4 linked regions of the Homo sapiens genome follow. The protein of the gene in region 2 purifies or fractionates together with the protein of the main gene of each other region. This does not show direct contact. Each region holds a gene or a part of one and is shown on either strand. Other genes may lie near its edges.

The links. Proteins that work in one complex are often made in the same cells at the same time.
Region 1: the proteins of OLA1 (region 2) and ASNS fractionate together in Homo sapiens (co-fractionation; one large-scale study listed by BioGRID). This does not show direct contact.
Region 3: the proteins of OLA1 (region 2) and MORC2 fractionate together in Homo sapiens (co-fractionation; one large-scale study listed by BioGRID). This does not show direct contact.
Region 4: the proteins of OLA1 (region 2) and ACAT2 fractionate together in Homo sapiens (co-fractionation; one large-scale study listed by BioGRID). This does not show direct contact.

Annotation. Positions count from the first base shown.
Region 1 is NC_000007.14:97,862,398-97,865,922, forward strand, and holds part of ASNS (asparagine synthetase [glutamine-hydrolyzing]), read right to left. Parts: intron 2,100-3,525; coding exon 1,862-2,099; intron 1-1,861.
Region 2 is NC_000002.12:174,074,740-174,077,557, forward strand, and holds part of OLA1 (obg-like ATPase 1), read right to left. Parts: intron 789-2,818; coding exon 687-788; 3' UTR 1-686. UniProt on the Homo sapiens protein: Hydrolyzes ATP, and can also hydrolyze GTP with lower efficiency. Has lower affinity for GTP.
Region 3 is NC_000022.11:30,965,964-30,969,921, reverse strand, and holds the start of MORC2 (ATPase MORC2), read left to right. Parts: upstream 1-1,147; 5' UTR 1,148-2,032; coding exon 2,033-2,100; exon of another isoform or gene 2,101-2,856; intron 2,857-3,958. Other genes in the region: TUG1 (taurine up-regulated 1), read right to left, coding at 104-565. UniProt on the Homo sapiens protein: Essential for epigenetic silencing by the HUSH (human silencing hub) complex. Recruited by HUSH to target site in heterochromatin, the ATPase activity and homodimerization are critical for HUSH-mediated silencing.
Region 4 is NC_000006.12:159,775,531-159,779,055, reverse strand, and holds part of ACAT2 (acetyl-CoA acetyltransferase, cytosolic), read right to left. Parts: intron 2,907-3,525; coding exon 2,784-2,906; intron 1,755-2,783; coding exon 1,600-1,754; intron 887-1,599; coding exon 776-886; intron 559-775; exon of another isoform or gene 398-558; coding exon 227-397; 3' UTR 12-226; coding exon of another isoform or gene 1-11. Other genes in the region: TCP1 (T-complex protein 1 subunit alpha), read left to right, coding at 1-11. UniProt on the Homo sapiens protein: Involved in the biosynthetic pathway of cholesterol.

The DNA of each region.
Region 1 (3,525 bases), on a different chromosome or scaffold from region 2:
TGGGAAAGGCAAAGTGAGAGAGAAAGCAAAAAGATCAGTAATGACTGGGGGGTTAGGAGGAAGAGGACGGGAGGAAAGAATAAGTGGAGCACAGGAGATTTTTAGGGCAATGAAACTGTTCTACATAATACTGTAATGGTGGGTACATGGCATTAAACATTTGTCAAATCCAAAAATCTATAAAACACAAAGAGTGAACCCTTATGTAAACTATGAACTTCAGTTAATATATAAGTATCAGTTCATCAAATCTAATAAATGTAGCACAGTAATGCAAGATGTTAAGAGTGGGGAAAACTGGGCAGGGGCACTGTAGGGGGAGCATATGTGAACTCTCTGCACTTTCCTCTCAATTTTTTCTAAAACTGCTCAAAAAAAAAAATAAAGTCTATTATGTTTTTAAAATAAAATGATCCCTAACAGGAAAAAAAAATGGCAAAGGATCTGAACAAATATTTCTCCAAAGAAGATATACAAATGGCCAATAAGCATAAGATAAGATGCTGGACATCACTGTCAACAGGAAAATACAAATCAAAATCACAATGAGATACCACTTCACATACACTAGAATGGCTAGAATTAAAGTCACACACTGTTTGTGAAGATGTGGAGAAACAGAAATTTTAATACACTGCTGGAGTGAATAAAAAATGATGCAGCCATTTCAAAAATTAGTCTGGCAGTTCTTCAACTGAACATAGTTATCATGTGTCCCAGCAATTCTACTCCTAGATATACACCCAAGGGAAATGTCCACACAAAAACTTGTACACCAATGTTTATAGCAGCATTATTCATAATAGCCAAAAGGGGTAAATAATGTCCTAAATGTCCATCAACTGACAAGCGAATAAACAAAATGCAGTGTATCCATGTAATGGAATATCATTTGGCCATAAGAAGTAAGTACTGATACATGCTACGGCATAGACAAATCTTGAAAGCACTATACCAAGTGAAAGAATCCAGTCACAAAAGCCGGTATGATATATAATCCCGTTCATATGAAACATACAGAATAGGGAATCCAGAGGCAGAAAGACTGGTGATTGCCGGGGCTACAACTGCAGGGGTGCAGCTGATGGATATGGAGAGATGGAATTCAAAGCTAAAGGGCACAGGAGGCAGGGTGTTGTGGTGCATGCCTATACTCCTAGCTACTAGGGAGGCTGAGGTGGGAGAATCGCTTGAGCCCACGAGTTCAAGGCTGCACTGAGCTATCAAACCACCGCACTCCAGCCTGGGCTGGGCGACTGAGCAAGACCCCATCTCTTCAAACAAACAAACAAACAAAAACCTAGTTGATCCTGCCAGCAAAAACTAAGGTAAAGGGCATAGGATTTGATTTGGTTTTTTTTGAGGTGGAAAAACAATCCTAAAACTGATTGGAGTGTTGTTTACCAACATCTGTGAATATACTAAAAACCACTGAACTGTATACTTCAAGTGGGTGAATTACATGGTATGTGAATTATCAATAAAGCTGTTTTAGAAATCCTAACACTTGCTGTGCTATAACTGCGCAAAGTACCACAATGCAATAATTGCAGAGTCAACCCTACGATTATAGTATGACACAGGAAAACTTAAAACTGCACTTAAGATCAAGCTAGATGTAGAGCATATTAGCACAGCAAAAAATAAACGACTGCACTAAAGAATCATCCTTCAAGGATTACAGAATTTAAGTGCTGAAAAGGAGAGTACAACTCCTCTGTTTTTTTAAAAAAAGGTAAAGACTCATAACTTAGTCACTTGTAAAATTCTGGATTGCTCTCTAAGAGATTTTCAAATATAATTTAAAAGAAAACGTACAACCAAGACAATAATGAAAATCTATAGAAAAATTTATTATTACCTTTAGCTTCTGAACATACAGCCAAAAATCCATCTTCTGTCATTGCTTTAAACAAAGGTCTGACTCCATATGTATCTCTACCCAGGAACACTTTCTTATTGGCAGTATCCAGTAAAACAAATGCAAACACACCATCCAACATACAAATTGTTTGCTCAATTCCTCCTTTGTCATAAAGATGAAGGATTATCTCACCATCCACTTTGGTCTGGTATTCAAATTCAAAATGCTGTTGCATCTTAGGAAGCGAAAGCAAAACCAAAATGTTAGACTCCTTGTACATTCACTAATAATTTTTTATTGCAAAGATGCTTCAGTATTTCTGAGCTCTATAATCCTTTCATGCACTTTGGTGATTTAGGAGAATCACAGCATTATTAAACTATGGTTCGCTTCAACTCATATTCTGCAAATTCTGTTCAACATAAAGCCGAACCCATGAAAATTTTAGTTGCAGTCTGATAAACAGAACATAATGGGAATGTGCCAGAACAGTAACCTGTGGAGGGATGGAAATGTATATTATATACATACCATATATGTAATACATACATATATTTATATATATACAGATTGAGTATCCCTTATCTGAAATGTTTGGAACCAGAAGTGTTTTGTGTTTTGGACTTTGGAATATTTGCATATATGTGAGATATCTTGGGCATGAGACCCAAGTCTAAACATGAACTTCATTTATGTTTCATATATCTTATACACAAAACCTAAAGGTAATTTTATATAATATTTCAAATAATTTTGTGCATGAAACAAAGTTTGCATACATGGAACCATCAGAAAGCAAAGGGGTCACTATCTCAGCTACCATGTGGAAAATCTGTGGCTGTTTGACATCATTGACCATCATTCCTGACTCTGAATTTATTATGCTGCTGATGAGCAATCATTTTCATATGCTTATAAAATATGACATACCATTAATACAGTAAGAAAGTAATAAGTAGCATAGTAGAATCACCAGAATACCTGCATCAGCTGTTAAACAGCTGTACAAACAATGGCAGGCTTTCAGACTCCACCTACAATGCTGCGTTTTGATTAAAAGGTTACTATACACTGTATTTTTTTTTCCTTTTTCAGGTGAGAAGAAACATCAGAAGCAGCTGAGCAACTAGGAAGCGGGTCCTCTGAGATTGAAGAGGCATTCGGCCAGATGACTTTTAAATGTTTCTCCAGAGTCATCTGCTTCATTAACAATGGCTTTTGTCTTGGAAGGCTCTCTTTGATTTTATAAACTGACATGACCTCTTGTTCTGTTATGAATGCAGGTAGCTCTAGTCCTTCAATATCTCTATCACACATTTTCACCATGTCATCTATACCTTTATACTACAGTCCAGTTTCTCCTACAGCTTGACTTTCTGTGTTATAAGTGTTTCTACTTTTCCTTATCACTGCTGCTCATAGAAATATCTACAGGTCTTTTTGACATTTTCAGTATCTTAACACCACAGAGCAGAAAATAAGCAAAAATACACAATGGATAATGCACATAAGTCCCATCTGTGGGGATCCTGCCAATGGCGTATCCAGCTTGAACATGTGCCATTCTATTACCCTTTGTGGGCGTGCTTGCATGGGGAAATCCGGGCATGTGTAGAAAAGTTATACTGCAGCTGAAGCGGGCTGAGAGGGTCTTTTTTCCC
Region 2 (2,818 bases):
TCATATCCCTCATAATATCATTGCTATCATCTTTCAATAAATGTTGATCTATAAATTAATTAACTTTTTTGAGACAAATCCCTGGTATACTATTCTTCTGATTCCCATGAAAGACTCACTTTTAAGATACAATTGCAGCTGCCCCACACTGCCAGTTACTGTGTCATACACACGCCTTAAAATTCTGTAATCAGCAACCACCAGGTGCCGTATCGCATTCAGCACACCACAGTCAGTCAATACAGACATCCCCAAACACACCAAGGCTGGTTTTGTCAAATGTTTTATTGAGTGTAGACATCTGGAGTACTGTAAAACATGCATTATCTGTAGATTCAAAAAGGAGCAAGCCACATTGTCCTCACTGTCAAATGTGTCAGGCTTGGCATACATGATGGAGATTAATGAAGTATCATGAGAGTAATATGGTTCCTGAAAAGCTTCTACAATTTGGAGTAGGGTCTTAATCACGTGAAAAGCAAAGCTGTTCACATTTAGTGAACCTGCATTTCATGGGGGGGGGGGGGTACACAGTATTTTAATTTTAAAACAAATAAAAATAATTTGTTTGTCAAAGATTCCCATCTCCCCAACTTTATTTGTCGCATTGGTTTTCAGAAATTTTAATTTTTTAAAAATCAGATGCCTTTTGGAAGTTGTATGTTTATCTGAGCAATAACTAAATTTTATTTCTTCTTCGGTTGTTGAGGTGTGTTAAATTTGAAGAAGATAATATCTCCATCTTCAACAATATAATTTCTGCCTTGTTGTCTGTACTTTCCAGCAGCCTGCAAACAGAAAATATAGAGGAAATGGGTTATTAGTTTACAACTAAATACATGGGGTAAATGGTGGCAGCAGATATAAAAAGTATTATACTACTTGGGTGATATAAAAAAAGAAAAAATGAAATATAGGAAGGCATACAAGTTCAAAACTAGACTTGGAGAGAAGCAAAGTATTCTTGATTTGGGCAGAACTAGATTTTCCATATATACATAATCATAATGTATTCTCCACTAAATTGTTGGTACATAAATGTAATTATACCAATATCATTAAGTTTCATTACACGCTGTTTATGGTACATTTCTGATGTGTCTGCAAACATCCAGCAAGTCACTGTAACAAAACAGATCAAACCAGGCAGAAAGAAAAAGACTATATAACTAGTTAAAAGCTGCTTTATTTGCTTAAAGAAATCCTTTGGTGACACTGGTGATGCCAAAAATATAGTTGGTATAAGGAAAATTATGATCAGTTGTTGTGTAAGATTCTGAACTACTTCCTTGTAGTTTTTAAAATTTAGTCTTGACAATGTGTATACATAGAAGTATGTACTAGAATTCATCATACGGTTTCCTGACTAATGGCCCTAGTTACAAGGAGACTCTAACAGGTTGCAGTTGCAAAGACAGATATTTCTTCCACTTGTAAATTAGTCAGCAAAGCAACTGATTCCACCTGCTGGTATGCAGATCCAGACATGCAATCTGCTGGTAATTTTAATAGAAGCAAGCAGCAGTTCCAGAAAACCAGGTTTAGTCCATGGCATGAACTTTACTTTACCATAAGTAAAACAGGCTCTGCAGCACCCACACTTAACACTGCACACAGCTGACATGGTCCCACATGACCCCACCATCGACTCCTCAACAATAAGGACTTGAGGATCTTTTGGGGGAAATTCTCAAAAGTTTTTCCCTTCTGTTAGAATGTATTGAGAAGAAACCTTTGCCCAACAGGATTAGTGCTTCTCTTTGAAGATATTGATAAGAATGTTCAAAGCCAAGTGAAATTATACTAATCTGTAACAAAAACACTAATAAAGATCATACATCTGAGGGTAAAATCAACAAACCAGATTGCAGAGCCCTAGTAAGCATATTTTCAATTATCTAGACCACATATAAAACTGTCCTGATTTTAACAGAATATAAATATATGAAGAATATATAAAGCTTATTTCTAGAAAGCCAACGTAACGTACCCTACAATTAAAGGCATATGTGTGTGTGTGTATACATATATATTTATATTTATATATATTTCATATATATGACACATATGTGTGTGTGTATATATATAAAAATACATATTTTCACATGTTTTTATAAAGACATGCAATGTATTGAAGGCCATAAGCTACTTATTTCTAGAATCTATAGCCCACTGTTATAAAACTATATAGACAATATAAATCAAGTACATATTGACATGACATATTAATGTAACTTTATATACTTTGTTACCACTCAAGTTTACTATTAATTAAAAGTGACAGTGTTCCTTTAAATTCTCTAGAGACCATTTAATCCATTTCCACTGCTATCAGAAACACTGGTTGAAAAAAAAAATCAATACCCATTTGTGAATCTTGAGTATGTATTAAACAAGACACGTCTAACCAGTTCATTTGCACTTGAAAGCAGCCATCTGTAGAAGCCAGCTTTGCCTAAGCAGATATGATTGCTAATAATGTGATATCCCTGTAGACTACAAAGCCCACACAGAGCTATTCAGTATATAGTTCACAGCACTGGCATTAAATTAGTTATGCTGCACTGGTGTTAGAAATACATATACATACATACATACATACATACATACATACATACATACATACACACACATATACACAATTTTGCTCTCAAATCTAAAACCTACTTGATAATCTGCAAGTAAACATTTGTTGAATAAAGGAGCAGAGAGCAATTCCTAAATGCTTCATTTTACTTGGACTTCAAATTTTGAAATATTAGTTTTGGAGGTTAAAACAACGTAAAATATTTAATGGTATCCTAGGTGAAAATGTCAG
Region 3 (3,958 bases), on a different chromosome or scaffold from region 2:
TCACTCCGCCAACTGGTGGCTAGGCCCGGAAGAAAACCCAGCTCTTCCGACTCCGGAGCTCGTCTCCCCACCCCGGGGCTGCCGCCAGAGCTCCCGCCCCTCACTAAGGCGGCATAAGGAGGAAAAGGCAAAGTAGAAATCCCACAACCAACCATCCTCCGGCCCCCTCCTGCCCCCCCAACTGGGTCCTTGCAGGCCCCGAAGGGTGGCGCCAGGCCTCCAAGCCGGCCCCGGCCACCCCCGCCTCCCCGGCCGCTCCAAATCCCGCGGCCGCTGCCGCCGCCGCCTCCCCCGGAGCGGGGCGGAGCAGCTGCCCGCCGCCGCCGACCACCCGGACGACTCCTCGTCGAATCGCAAACGCATAGGCCGCCGCCCGAGTTCTGCGTACGAGAAGAAAGACGCGGCGCGAGCGCCAACGGCCACCGGGCGCGCGCCGCGGCGGCCGGGCCTGCGCCCCAAGAGCTGGATGCCAGAGCAGGAGAAAGAGCCGCCAACCGATCGCTCGATCGACCGCACGCCCGTTCCTTCGCCCTACCAGACCCGGGAGGGGGGGAGGGCGCGCCAGGGCTTCTTCGATTTAGGGGCCTGACTCCCCGGCGACGAGACAAGATGGCTCCTCCGGTCCGCACCGCAGCTACCGTCCCGGCTGCGTCGCTCGGCCCGCCCCCGGTACTGTTTCTTTAAATGGCGGAGAGGGTCAGGAAAGCAGGAAGAGAGGCGCACGCTGTCACGTGACAGGGGCGGGACCGGCCAACCAAGATCCGGTCACATGGGGACACGCAGCCCGCCAATCAGGAGGCTGTACATCAGGGCGGGGGCGGGAGGAGCTGCAGCTTTGTGATTGGCTGAATGCTCCGCGGAGGCCTCGGGGGCTTGGGGCGTCGGGGAGTGTGCGAGGTGGCCGGGGCTGTGTGCACTATCGGAGACAAAGCGGTGGCTGTGGTGTCTGTGACGGCGGCGGCAGAGCAGCTCTAAACGCCGAATTTCGTGTTGCTGAATCCTGTCACCATCTCAACTAGCGCGGCGCGCGGGCGGCGCGCGGGCGGCGGCGGAGGCAGCGGCGGCGGCGGCGGAGGCGGCAGCAGCACATGGTTCCAAGAGCGCTCTGCGGCTGTTGGGTTCCAATTCCGCGGGGAGGGACAAAGGCAGTTGTGAGATCCGGGTAGTGCCCGGTCAGGTGGTGCGCTCGCCACTGCCCTCGATCCGGTCCTTGGAAGCCGGGAGTAGCTCCTCTTCGTGGGGAGGCGGCCACGGGACCGAGGCCCGGGAAGGGCCTGGGAGGCTGAGGCTGTTGTCTGAGGGACGTGGGGGCGGGGCGCGGCCTGCCCGAGGTGCTGTGGGCGGGTCATTTGTGAGGTGTTTATGTGGGCCAAGTGTGAGGTAATCTGACCACCACCCTGAACTGGGTTTGGTCCGGCTTTGAAAAAAGAAATCGTGAGTGCCTAGGAGCTTTTTCACTTGGGAGGTGGTGAAGCTGCAACTTGCGCCATATAACACTCCGTCGACATCTTGGTCTCCGGTCTTGGGCCTGTTTAAGAATCCTGGCATCACGTGTGGCGAAGACATGGCTGATCAGTTTTCTGACAGAAGTGGGTAAATTTCCGCGTTGGTAAATTTCCTGACAGGAAATTTCGGGGAACCAAAAAAGGCTGGAAGAACATGAAGATGGAGCAGTCATAAACCACCCACTCAAGGACCATCTCCTTCAGGACCATCCACACGAGACTCAGATTGTCTGAATTGAGCTATCGCAACTTAATGCTAAAAGCTCCTTAAAGCTACAGATTTATGACATAGTTCCTTCCAAAATATTACATCATAAATCATTGAGAAGATTAAAAAAAAACACTTGAAGAAATTGTAGTTTTAAACATCTCTGCATATATTTTGGATAGCTACTAGGTTACTTTAACTGTCATTAAGGAGCACAGACTTACTGAAGCTTTACTGGACAGAATCCTGGGAAATCGATATCATTATAAGGTTATATTTCCCAGTTAGCGGGTGAAGGGCTGGAGACCTTATTGCAGTCATGGCTTTCACAAATTACAGCAGTCTGAATCGAGCTCAGCTAACCTTTGAATATCTGCACACAAATTCGTAAGTATCCTCTAGGTGCCACTGAGGTAACCAGTAACTCGTTCCTTGATATTATATGGAAATCGTTTCCCCAGAAAATTTTGCTTTTTCACTTTTTGAGATGTATCCCACTGGAGTGAAATGTGTCACTGGATATCTTGAGCTCTGTATTGAAGAACTGAGATCAGTGAAATACTTGTTGCTAATCCAGAAGAATCTGATTTTTGTTTATTGGATCAAAATTTTCTAAATGCAAACTTTAGTTATTTGAAGTCAATATGTTGAGTTGTTTCATTCAAGTGTTTATAGGAATCCAACAAATACTGCTCTATTGGATCGCCAAATGTTGGACTATTTTAGTATCAACCGTTTCCCCTCTGTAGTGACAACGTCCTAAACAGTTAGGTTTATAACAAGTGTTTACTTTCTAACAAGAAAACAGAAGACATTTAAATGACAACTTTCAAGAAGAAAATTTTTATTTTTTCAGAAGTTGGCATTATCTTCCTGGCAGATTGCTCACATCCAATATTATTTGTATATGCTAAACAGGAAACGGCAACTTGTTTATATCTCTATTTAGATAGTCTTTCCCCAAAATTTCCACAGAAACATACAGTGTTCATGGTTCTTGAGTTCATGAAGGAGTAATCTAATCACTCCAACATGGTCTGGAATGTTTCAGGTTTAATCCATATGCCCACTCTCTTGGAGGCTGTCCAGTAGCGTCAAAACTTTAGTGTTTTAATACATTCACCTGTTACTTTTGAGATGAAGGTAAGTGTTCTAACATTCTAGTACCTGGAGAGGAGATGAGCAGCTACATGAATGGTCCAGTCTCTGAAGAACCCACTTCAGAGTCGAGAGTATAGACTTCCATTATGTAGTAATAGTACAATGGTTTTTAGCTTTTGATGGAGAAGACAACATGTTTGTGATATCATAATGTCTGTAATATTTCTATTTTTCCTTTAAAGGGAATAAAATTTTGCCAAGTAGTGAAGCAAACTGTCAAATGGTGAAAGCCTGTTTTTATTTTTTTTAGGAAGTTTGTTATTTTTTTGAGAGACGGAGTCTTGCTCTGTTGCTCAGGCTAGAGTGGGGTGGCGCAATCTTGGCTCACTGCAACCTTCACCTCCCAGGTTCAAACGATTCTCCTGCCTCAGCTTCCCAAGTAGCTGGGACTACAGGCATGCACCACCACGCCCAGCTAATTTTTGTATTTTTTTAGAGAGACGGGGTTTCACTATATGTTGGCCAGGCTGGTCCCGAACTCCTGACTTCAGGTGATCCACCCACCTTGGCCTCCCAAAGTGCTGGGATTACAGGCATGAGCCACCATGGCCGGCCTGTAGCAGTCACCTAGGTTGAATTCTAACACTTAAGTATGATGACCCTGAAACACACTTGGGTGAGGTTGCTGATTAGTGATTATTCAGCTAGTTGATAGCATAGCCTTGGGAAAAAACTTTAGTGTCCTTTTTAATGTTTGAACTGCCATATTAAGAACAAGCAGTTGAAGGCCACTTAAATGTTCATGGATGACTGTGTTTGATAAATGGTTATCTCAGCTCTGAATTTTGGAATGATGGTAAGTCTGGAATTACAGATTTTATGATAATCTTGGAAGACCATGAACTGGACTTCAGAATTTCAGTTCTTGTTCCAGCTTCACCAAAGACTTTATGGGATAATAATAGTAACAACAGTTAATTGCTTCATATCAGTCACTATTTTAAACATTGTCCAAAGCAATCTTTACAGGAAGCCTTTGGGATAAGGATTATTCCTATTTTGCATTTGAGGAAACTGAGGTTCAAAGAGATTAAATTACATGGTAATGGCTATATAGCTGCCAAGTGGCAGACTTAAACGGTGC
Region 4 (3,525 bases), on a different chromosome or scaffold from region 2:
TTAATGATTGATCTGATGTTCCTTTTATTTATAACAATGTTAAATGCAATTGTCTTGTACCTTGAGTTGAGTATTACACATTAAAGTAAAGTACAAGCTGTAAACTTGGGTTTTTGTGATGTAGGAAATGGTTTCCATCTGTACTTTGGTCCTCTGATTTCACATATTGCAACCTAGTACTTTATTAGTTTAAAAAGAAATTGAGGTTGTTCAAAGTTTAAGCAATTCATTCTCTCTGAACACACATTGCTATTCCCATCCCACCCCCAATGCACAGGGCTGCAACACCACGACTTCTGCCCATTCTCTCCAGTGTGTGTAACAGGGTCACAAGAATTCGACAGCCAGATGCTCCAAGAGGGTGGCCCAAGGCTATAGCCCCTCCTTCAATATTGACCTAACGGGGGAGAAAAGATTTAGATTGTTTATTCTTCTGTGGACACAGTTTAAAATCTTAAACTTGTCTTTTTCCTCTTAATGTATCAGCATGCTACCCTTTCAAACTCAAATTTTCATTTTAACTGCTTAGGAATAAATTTACACCTTTGTGAAAATTCATCCCTGCCTATCTTACCTCGTTCCTTTTATGCCAAGTAAGCCAATGTCTTTTTTTTTTTTTTTTTTTTTTTTTAAACCTTGGGAAGTAATGAACTCAGTCCTAGTAACTAGTATTTCTTTAACTATTACCCACATGGCCAACACCTAGAAGATACTATCTTAAAATTGGATTGTGAAATTCACTGGTAAGCTCTCAGGGTTACTTGTGCATCTTTACCTTCTCTGGGTTTAATCCAAGTTCTTTAACTATTGCAGCAGAGACAGCTGCAAAGGCTTCATTGATTTCAAATATGTCAACATCTTCCAGTGACCAACCTGCTTTTGTAACCTAGAGGAAAGATTCATAGAAAAGAGGTCTAAACTTGGGTGGAAAGGCTAAAGTTAAACCATTCTTTGTCAACATAAATATATGCTGCATGATACTGGTAACTGCTACTTTGGTTTGTTCTTAGGTTAATACAGTGACATTCTCACACATTTTTGCCTTAGTGACATCCATTCCATCCAAAAGGTTAAGGGTGTGATCTAAAAGATCCCTTAGAAATTCTAAATTGTCTTAAAATTTTGAACCAGTAGCATCTGTTATGTGTACCTAAGGCTAATGTAACAGAATCAGTTCCCCTAGAAAGCATGTGATCCAAATGCTCTCAGTGGCTGGGGGTAGTGGCTCACACCTGAAATCTCAACACTTGGGGAGCCTAAGGCAAGAGGATCAATTGAACTCAGGAGTTCAAAACCAGCCTGGGCGACATAGACCTTGTCTCTACGAAATGAAGAAGGCGTGGTGCACCTGTAGTTCGAGGTAATGGGAGGCTAAGGCAGGAGGAATATTTGAGCCTAGGAGTTTTGAGGCTGCAGTGAGCTATGATGGTGCCACTGCACTCCAGCCTGGACAACAGAGCAAGACCTTATCTCAAAAATAGAAATAAATGCTCTTGGTTACTCTTCTGGTAGGGAAAGACTAGAGCTAACTACATGAATAAGCTCACTTAAGGCTAACAGGAAGACAAATTTCATAAAAGGGAATAGGGTTATACTCACAGCTTGCTTTATGGCTGGAATTGGTCCTATTCCCATAATGGAAGGCTCCACACCCACTTGGGACCAGGAAACTATCCGTGCTAAAGGTGTAAGCCCACGTTTATCAGCTTCTGACTTCTTCATAAGAACGACAGCTGCAGCACCATCATTTATTCCTGTAAAATATGAGTGACTTAATTTCTACCATGCTTATTAACCTCAGTTACATATCTGTGGCTTCTTTACCACCTGAAGACATGAGTTAAATGATTTTACCTGTTGGCTAAGGCATTTACTATAATTCAACAGACTTTACATAGAAATTATGTTTGGCAATATATTGACCACAAAACTTTCCAACTAGAGAAAGTGGTAGGATTACAGTAGTCGGGGCTGGGCGTGGTGGCTCACGCCTGTAATCCCAGCACTTTGGGAGGTGGAGGAGGGTGAATCACCTGAGGTCAGGAGTTTGAGACCAGCCTGACCAATAGGGTGAAAGCCATCTCTACTTAAAATAGAAAAATCAGCCGGTGTGGTGGTGTGCGCCTGTAGTCCCAGCCACTCAGGAGGCTGAGACAGGAGAATTGCTTGAACCTGGGAGGCGGAGATTGCAGTGAGCCAAGATTGCACCACTGCACTCCAGCCTGGGCGACAGAGTGAGGCTCCGTCTCAAAAAGAAAAAAAAAGGATTACAGCAGTTGGGGAGGGGAGATCTCTGACAGGAAATGGAAGAATAAGCCTGGGCTTCACAAGGAGGTATTGGGAGTTTCTGGTACTGGAAAAATACAAAGGTAGATAAACTGAAGTTCCCTAATTTACTTCTTCATTTGTATGTCTAGTTGGGATGTCAAGAAACCAAATTAATTCTTTCAGTATAGGTTAAGTCAATGATCAAATACAGAGAAATGACATGTTTCCTTAAACTGTTTTAAGAATAATTTTGTACATAAATATTGAGTTGGGTGTGGTGGCTCATGCCTGTAGTCCCCCAGCTACTTGGGAGGTTAAGGCAGGGGGCTCACTTGAGCCCAGGAGTTTGAGGCTGCAAGTGAGCAATGATCATATTGCTGCACACGAACCTGGCTGGCAGAGTGAGTCCCTGTCCCAAAAAATAGTACTTTTGTATATAAATAAAGAGAAAAATATTCACTCGGTAGACATTATAGAACATAGTATTCCCCCAGATGTCCTTCAGAAAATCTAACCTGAAGCATTGGCTGGGGTGACTGTTCCCGTTCCATCAGTAAGAAAGTAAGGCTTTAGCTTGGACATGGCTTCTATGTTGCTCCCATGGCGAGGAAACTCATCTGTTTTAACTTCAATAAGACCTAAGCAAAGGAAAACCAATTACTCAAGATTAGTCCAGAGACAGAAGTAAGTGTGCTGGGAATGGTGGGTTCTCTGCCATTAAACATGAGGATTCATATTTAGCAGAAAAGTTTTAATATGTGACCACTTTGATGACAACAGGAGGAAAGTACACACAAGAATTATTGTACATGAAAACAATTTATGAGTATGTCCTTATGAGACACCTGTGTTTTCCAAATCCATAGGCCTTCCTGAGGAAAGTAGCTACCAGGGACCTGTTTGTGCCAAATTCTGCTATAGTTTGGGTCATAGTACTTGGCTGGTTACGAGTGAGTGGATCAGGCAGTCTCAAAGCCAATCGTGCACTGCTGGCAGGACATAAGAGATATCAGTTATCAATAAGGGAGCTTGACGGGAGCATTCTGTATTAGAAAATAGCGAGTGACCCCAAAAGATCCACCCTTTAGAAATGTGAAATGGAGATCACACAGAAACAGCGAGAAGTAATGGGTGTCCACTTCTGAGGAGGTTGAGCCTATACAGGAAACAGGTCAGCTGGTGCCTCCTAACAACCATGAGCCAGTGCTCCAGCTTCTCATGAAACCTGCTGTGTGTGCACAGTGGTCATGGACGCTC